2 linked regions of the Homo sapiens genome follow. The protein of the gene in region 1 interacts with the protein of each later gene in a pairwise test. Each region holds a gene or a part of one and is shown in the gene's direction. Other genes may lie near its edges.

Evidence for each region.
Region 2: the proteins of NFYB (region 1) and MAOB interact in a two-hybrid assay, tested with the Homo sapiens proteins (one large-scale study listed by BioGRID and IntAct).

Annotation. Positions count from the first base shown.
Region 1 is NC_000012.12:104,128,136-104,131,960, reverse strand, and holds part of NFYB (nuclear transcription factor Y subunit beta), read left to right. Parts: intron 1-122; exon of another isoform or gene 123-198; coding exon of another isoform or gene 199-207; intron 208-1,071; exon of another isoform or gene 1,072-1,150; intron 1,151-3,443; coding exon 3,444-3,537; intron 3,538-3,825. UniProt on the Homo sapiens protein: Component of the sequence-specific heterotrimeric transcription factor (NF-Y) which specifically recognizes a 5'-CCAAT-3' box motif found in the promoters of its target genes.
Region 2 is NC_000023.11:43,875,949-43,879,773, reverse strand, and holds part of MAOB (amine oxidase [flavin-containing] B), read left to right. Parts: intron 1-3,825.

The DNA of each region.
Region 1 (3,825 bases):
CCAGTTTGTTCACGGTCTCATGGTAAGTGGCAGGGAATTCAAACTAGGTGATTCGATTCCAGAGCCTGTGTCCTGGAAGGACTAATAGGCTCTGTTCTCTACCCCTTCACCCTGCCTCCCAGGTTATGTAACATTTGTCCTGCAAGCTGAGGACAGAGACCTTGTCTGTTGTTGACAGCTACGTGACCAGCACATAGCATGAACCTGGTAAATACTAAGCGCTCACTCAGTAAATATTTGTTGGCTGGCTTACTGACAATCTACAGTCTGTTTTATAAGTTTTTATAGGATGTTTTAGACCTAGAAAAAACCTTTGGGATGCATCTAGCAAGTTTTTTTCCATCATTCTTATATATAGGCGAATGGCTGGCATATTCTAAGCATCAAAGATTAGGTTGACTTATTGAGTGAAAGGTACTAAGTGCCATAGAGCTTTAAAGAACAGAACATTTGTTTTTGAATTGCAGAAAGGATAAATCAGAAAGATTAAAGGAGGATAGAGAACACTGGGATTAAAGTCTGGGGCAGGATTTTAATGGTAGAAAGACAGAGGAAAGGAAGACAGAAGGCGTGAAATGATAGAAAGCTAAAACTTGCAGAACTGAAGACACATACAGTTAAGCAGATGATGTGCGGCTTCTCTTCAAAGGAGGGAGGATGAGATCGAATGTCTGTGGGGTACACTACGTGCCAAACACTGTCTTTAGCAGCTTTCTAGTCTTTATTTAATTCTGACAACTCTAGGAAATACTTTTATCTTCACTTTTAGAAGACTGAGGTTTAGCGAGGCTAATGCTGTTAGTCCAAATGATAATCATGTTGCTAATTCCAGTGCATGACAAGATAATATGATTTAAACTTTTTTCCTTTAATACTTTTGTTTGTGTTATATTTCTAAATTAATTCATCTCCCAGATCCGCCTGGTTATTTGAACAGTGTCTTGCTCATAGCCAATTTTAAAAGACTTAATGGTATCATGTAAACACTCATTCAGGAAAGAATTTCTGTTATTCTTCCCAACCCACCGCCTGCCCTCCCCACCCCCAACCAAAGTTTGTTTCCAATTGTAGGCTCTGAAACAACCACTTTGGTCCTGTCTCCTGCACCTTGATCTTCCTTAGGTTATTGTAAAAGCTAGTCAACTCACAGGTATCATAATTGATCATTCTTTTATGGCTGTAAAAAAAAATCCATCATGTCTATTAAAGGATACTCTCCTAGTATGTTAGCATTTTAAGATCAAAATAGCATTTGATTTTTGGGCACTGTTTCACATTTATTTGTGTTAGTTTAAGATGGGGAGGGTGGTATTGTTATTTACATTTTATATGGAAATACATTTAATTGGCAGGGATGCTTATTTTCAGGGGATCAGTAGGAGAGTCAGAATCAGGTCACTGACTTTGTTGTTTACTTCTTAGAGGCTACTAAAAGTATCAAATAGGTACCCTATGTTCACAGATTATTAAAGGTCTGTAAATTCTATTTTCTACCCCCTTACAACAACTATATAAATTATAGAAATGTGTCTCTATCTACAGTTATATTAGGCATCACAGTCAACAGATGCATGAAAGAAATGCCGTGTTATTGAAGACCTGGAAACTAGCCCAGTATTTTAATATTAAATAAAAATTCAACAGAGATGGAGAAGACATGTGTTATACAAGGACTAAAATTTTGCAATTAATAACATTAAGTTTATACTGGGTCCTGGGCCTTAATGAAGGGTCAAATTTCTTTGTTCAGCCTGAAAGTATGTATGAATTACACTTGATTTTTGCTATACTTTTTATTCAGATAATGCATTTAACATTTTTTCACTCACAGATATCTTATTTTGAGTAGTAGTATTTGCAAAACAGAAAGCCTTCTAGGATCTGCCATGTTGGTGAAATTGAATGGAGCCAGCTCAGGGCTTATGATTTACTTTTTTCCAGACTTTCCCTCTTGGAATTCTTTTAGCTCTCAGCAAAATTAATTAAGCAGGCTTTTTTTAAAATAGGAATTTTAACTCTTATTCTTGTCTGTGCAGGTAATTTTCCTATCTTTATACATAGATCTTCCTGACCCCTCCTCCTGACCCCACTCTGTCACTGAGGCTGGAGTGCAGTGGTGTGATCACAGCTCACTGCAGCCTCAACCTCCTAGGCTCAAGTGATCTTCCCACCTCAGCCTCTCAAGTAGTTAGGACTACAGGCACATGCCACAACGCCTGGCTAATTTCTTAATTTTTGTTTTTTTTTAGAGACAGGGTCTCACTGTGTTGCCCAGGCTGATCTTGAACTTCTGGGCCCAAGTGATCCTCCCACCTTGGCTTCCCAAAGTTCTGGGATTACAGGCATGAGCCACACCTGGCCCTGATTTGGCAGGGGGAGAGAAAATTAACCTTTGACTAGAATCAGGAGTTTATGGGTTCATTCAAAACATGGGTGTACTTTTGGCTTGCCTGGGTACAGAATTGTGCAGAGAATCCGCATGCTTCTTATACCAAGTAACAGTTTGAACGGAGACATTGTCTATTTTGGAACTTCTATGAGAAAGCAAAGAAAGTTCGCAAGCAGGAGCAAAAGGAAAATCAGGGTTTAGCAGGAGAGCTGGAAGTGATGGATACAGGTGAATTCCAGTTGATGACTTAAGCTGATTTTTTTTTTTAAGAGACAGGTTCTCACTACATTGACCAGGCTGGTCTGGAACTCTTGAGCTCAAGCAGTCCTCCTGCTTCAGCTTCTGAGCAGTTGGGGCTACAGGTACATGACACTGTGTACAGCTTTACTAAGCTGATCATCATTCCAGGGATAAATTAGGTTGTAAGTCAGGGTTGCCTGTGGTACTATATTTGAAGATTATGCACTTAAAAAGAAAGAGGCATATGCTTTAGATTCATTTCCTTGTCGCTATTGGCCTTATGCTTATATCACTTATGGAAGATGGATAGGGAAATCTTGAATCGTGGACAAATTGTGGGAAAGTTTCCAAATCAAGAAATATAGGCTGGTTGCGGTGGCTGATGCCTGTAATCTCAGCATTTTGGGAGGCTGAGGTAGGTGGTTTGTTTGAGCCCAGGAGTTCCAGACCAGCCTGGGCAACATAGCAAAACCCTGTCTCTGCTAAAAATACAAAAAAATTGGCCAGGCATGGTGGTGCATGCCTGTAGTCCAGCTACTCAGGAGGCTGAGGTGGGAGGATTGCTTCAGCCTGGGAGGTGGATTCTGCAGTGAGCTGTGATCACGCCACTGCACTCCAGCCTGGGCCACAGAGTAAGACCCTGTCTCAAAAAAATAATTAATTTTTTAAAAAAGAAATATAAATTCTCTTTTAGTAAGCTTAAGGCTATGAAAAGTATAATTGATGCATCATCCTGTGACAGTTTATAAGTGTTGAATCTGTTACGTTTGTTAGTACTTTGAAAAGTATTGAAAAACTGTTTTTCTCCTCATAGATGGATGGTGACAGTTCTACAACAGATGCTTCTCAACTAGGAATCTCTGCAGACTATATTGGAGGAAGTCATTATGTTATACAGCCTCATGATGGTAAGCAAGCCACAATTAGAACCAAATTCTCAAGTTGAAGCAAGTTAGAAAGTGGACATTTCATTAATATGGTGTTCTAGGCTACTTGTGTCTTTATAGGAAAATTTACAATCTTGTGTTACGGTTCAATGAGAAAGTCTAAAAAGGCGTACCATGCTATTTTTATTAGAAATAGTCTTCAAAAGAATGAGTCCTTGAAAAGACTTTTACTATAAAAATACACCTTGTCTAAAATCTGTACAGTTTCTTTTAAAATTTGTTATCGACTTCCTGTTTAAATGTTAAATA
Region 2 (3,825 bases), on another chromosome or scaffold:
TTATGGGGAGGCTTGTATATCAGAAAGGTTTAGCTCTTTCTGTGATCAATGAATAGCACTGATGATTTTTTATTCAGAGTGCCATGCATCAAATGGCGTGTGTCACATCTGATGGTGATATTAGCAAAAAGAGGGATATGAAGAAGAGGGAGAGAAGGTTTTGGGAAAAGATAGGACGTCTAGAGTTGGAGGTTCTGGGAGGACACCCAGGGAGAGAAATCTAGCAGTTGGAATGAAATTGGGGTTACAAATGTGTACGATAGAGGTTTTAGTAGATGAAATGGCCAAAATCAAGAGTGTAGTGTGTAGAATTTTCGAATTAGTAGGTGACCAACACAATGATTTATGTTTAAAAGTCTCTGGATTTGACTCTGCGTTCTAAGCTTTGTTAATTATTAAACTTGGGACATTCTGGCAATTCCCTGATAATTTTTAAAGCTGTCAGCAAATTTTAATCACTCCCTTTGGGATAAACAGAGACATACTGGGAGGATAGCTGGTTAATACATAACTTTCTTTTTTGATGTTTTAAAAGTTCCAAGATAGTTGTAGACTAACTTTTTAGAAATGTGTATGGTGTATAAATGAGTATGCACTGAAATCTCTTTTACCCAAGGGGCAGATCATCTCCAGAGACTTGGCAGAGCAATGACATCTCCCACATGGAACTGGACAGCAGCACGTTGCATCTGTCCCGCGTCTCTCAGTTTTAGTGTTTGGGTGGGTGGAACCATGGAAACTATCTTTTGCAATTCTGGAATAGTTCTTGTTCAATCCCCAAAATAAAAACTAAAAAAGGCAACTTGAAGCAGAAACAAGAAAGTTTTGGCCAGACTTAGGAGAGGAGATTTGGTCATTTGAGGGTGGCAGGCACTTGTTTGAGATCCCTGGAAGTGTTGGAACCAGACTTCCAAATTGTAACCAACACCTGGCAGGTGATCTTTGTGGCAGGGAGAGCAAGCCTGGCTGCAGGCTAGTGGTACTGGCTTTGGCAGGGAATGTCAGAGATGGCTCACAAGGGGTTATGAGTTGAGGTGTGTGGTGGGCAGATGTGGCCCATATGTTAATGGCAAAGCCTCTTTCTCACCTTTGGTGAAGAAAAATGGAGAACTTCCCTGGGCTCCTGTAACCCACTTGAATGTCCTAAAAAATAATAATTATATAGATATGCCTGAAAATTTGTATATCCTAGTCAAGGAAAGAATACACAGAGGTAATACAGCAATATTAAAAGAACATACGATTTATCTTGGAAGGTTGAGACGGGAGGATTGCTTGAGCCCAGGAGTTTGAGACCAGCCCTGGCAACGTAATGAGACATGGTCTCCACACACACACACACACACACACACACACACACACACAAAGGCTGGGTATAGAGGAGTGCACCTGTAGTCCCAGCTACTCTGGAGGCTGAAGTGGGAGGATCACTTGAGTCCAGGAGCTCGAGGCTGCAGTGAGCTATGATCATGCCATTATACTCCAGCGTGGGCCACAGACAAAGACTGCCTATAAAAAAAGACTGGGAGGGGGAGAATAGGCTTAGTGTCAAACACACTAGTTATGAATCTCATTTCTTATGCTTACCTATGTGGAACCTTAAAAGGTACATAACCTCCCTGTATTTCAGCTGCCTCATCTTTAAAATGAGACTCATAATGCCTTCCTGGCCGGCTTGTTTCAAGGATTGGAAAGAATGCACATGTAGGACCATAAACAGTGATCACTTCGGCTTTGGCTTATAGGTGCCTTACTCTACCTTTTTGGAAATATATCCTTGTTTGTCCTGTAGAGTTTTTCAATCTAAGGGAGCAAAAACAGGCATTTCTATGTAATCACTTCTTTTCACCAACCAATAATTTTTCTGGATGTGCAGCATAGATAAGGTGGCAACAGGACGCCATGTATACATGTGGGCATCAGGAGAGACTCGCCTGACTTCAGCCTCATCCTGGCTCAGCCAATTCCTTTATCCCCCCGCAAGGGGCCTGAGGAACTCAGGCTCACTTTGGGCTCTGAGACCCACTGGGTTCCGCTTCAGGAGAAATTCTGGAAGTCTTAGATCTGTACTTCAGCCTCACCTCAACCTGGCTATTATTCCAATTCTGATCTGGTCTTCATTTCAGCCATTTGATTCCTGTCTTAACTACAATAGAAGATAAATGCATTAATAACAAATGATATTATTTATTTAATAATATTATTTAATAATAAATGATAAAAAGGTAGCATATCAAGCGTTATCTACATGCTGTACAAGGTGTTAGGAGCTTGATTAGAATGACAAAAGCTCTGTGAAGGTTAAGAATGACAAAGCCTTGTTCTTTCTGCTTGATTCTAACACCCCTGGGACACAGTGTTGGGGCCGGTTGGTGGGCTGTGTGAGTAGAGCCAGTTGCCACTAGAGTCACAATTTCTAGGCCCCCATGTGTCCTCAGAAGTCACCAGGGCAGGTTTAAGGCTTGGCTTGGCATTGACAATGGTCACAATTTTCTTCTCCTCTGACTGGGTATTGAGGTCTAGGCTCCCTGCCATACATTCAGGGGCAGTGGTGGAGCATAGGGGTTAAGAGCATGGTGTCTACCCTGGTTCCACCACTAACTAGCTGTGCCACCTTGGGCAAAATAGTTAGTTAACCTTCCCATGCCTTACTTTTCTCATTTGGAAATGGGGATAATAATGGTATCTATTTCACAAAGTGGCTGAGAGAATTAAAGGAGAAAATACATGTAGAGTGCTTGGAATGTGGCTTGGCATTTGGCAGGCACACAATAGATATTGATGATTATTGTTCATCAGGCTGACAAAATGTCCACTAGCAACTAGTGGTCTGAAGTGCCAGTGTGCCAGCTTCCTCACTGTCAAACTTTGGGCTGAGGAAGTGGTTTGTGGCTGTGCATTTGAATGCACTGACACACACACACACGCGTGCATGCACACTCGGAGAACATTAGCCTGTAACAGAGATTCTGCTTCCAAGCCCTGTTTTCTTGGCTTGTATATGATTTACTAACACAGATGATGTGAGAAAGTCAGCAGCTTAATTTAAACAAAAGGCTTTAACTCTAATTATTTTAATATGTATTTTAAGAGATAAATATGTCAGAAACTATAAATGCAAAACATTTGTATACGAAGAGGAAGGAAGATAACACAGCTGTTAAACACAAAGGGCATTGGAGGCCTGGGACTTGGGCTCAAATCCCATCTGTTCCCCTAAATGTGGAGCTTGGGCAATAGGGGTGGCAATAGTAACAGGTTAGTTTTTTTGTGGAGTTCAATTACAGATGATTTTCATTTTTTTCCATTTTCTGTAATTTACAGATTTTCACAACAAATATGTATTATTTCTGCAACTCACGTTTCCAGAAACACCATACTCTTCCCTCTCCAAAAAAATTCCTCAAAGTATAAATCACCATGATGGAATGTGACTGCATCTTTCATTTATATCAGTGGCTTTTCTTCTTAAAAATATTTGAGGGAATTTTTGTTATTAATAAGTGTGGTTATTGGCCAGGCATGGTGGCTCACACCTGTAATCCCAGCACTTTGGGAGGCCAAGGTGGGTGGATTGCTTGAGGTCAGGAGTTCAAGACCAGCCTGAACAACATGGTGAAACTCCGTCTCTACTAAAAATACAAAAATTAGCCAGGCGTGGTGGCGCATGCCTCCAGTCCGAAGCTACTTGGGTGGCTGAGGCAGGAGAATCACCTGAACCTGGGAGGCAGAGGTTACAGTGAGCCGAGATTGTGCCACTGCCCTCCAGCCTGGGAGACAGAGTGAGACTCTGTCTCAATAAATAAATAAATAATTAATAAATAA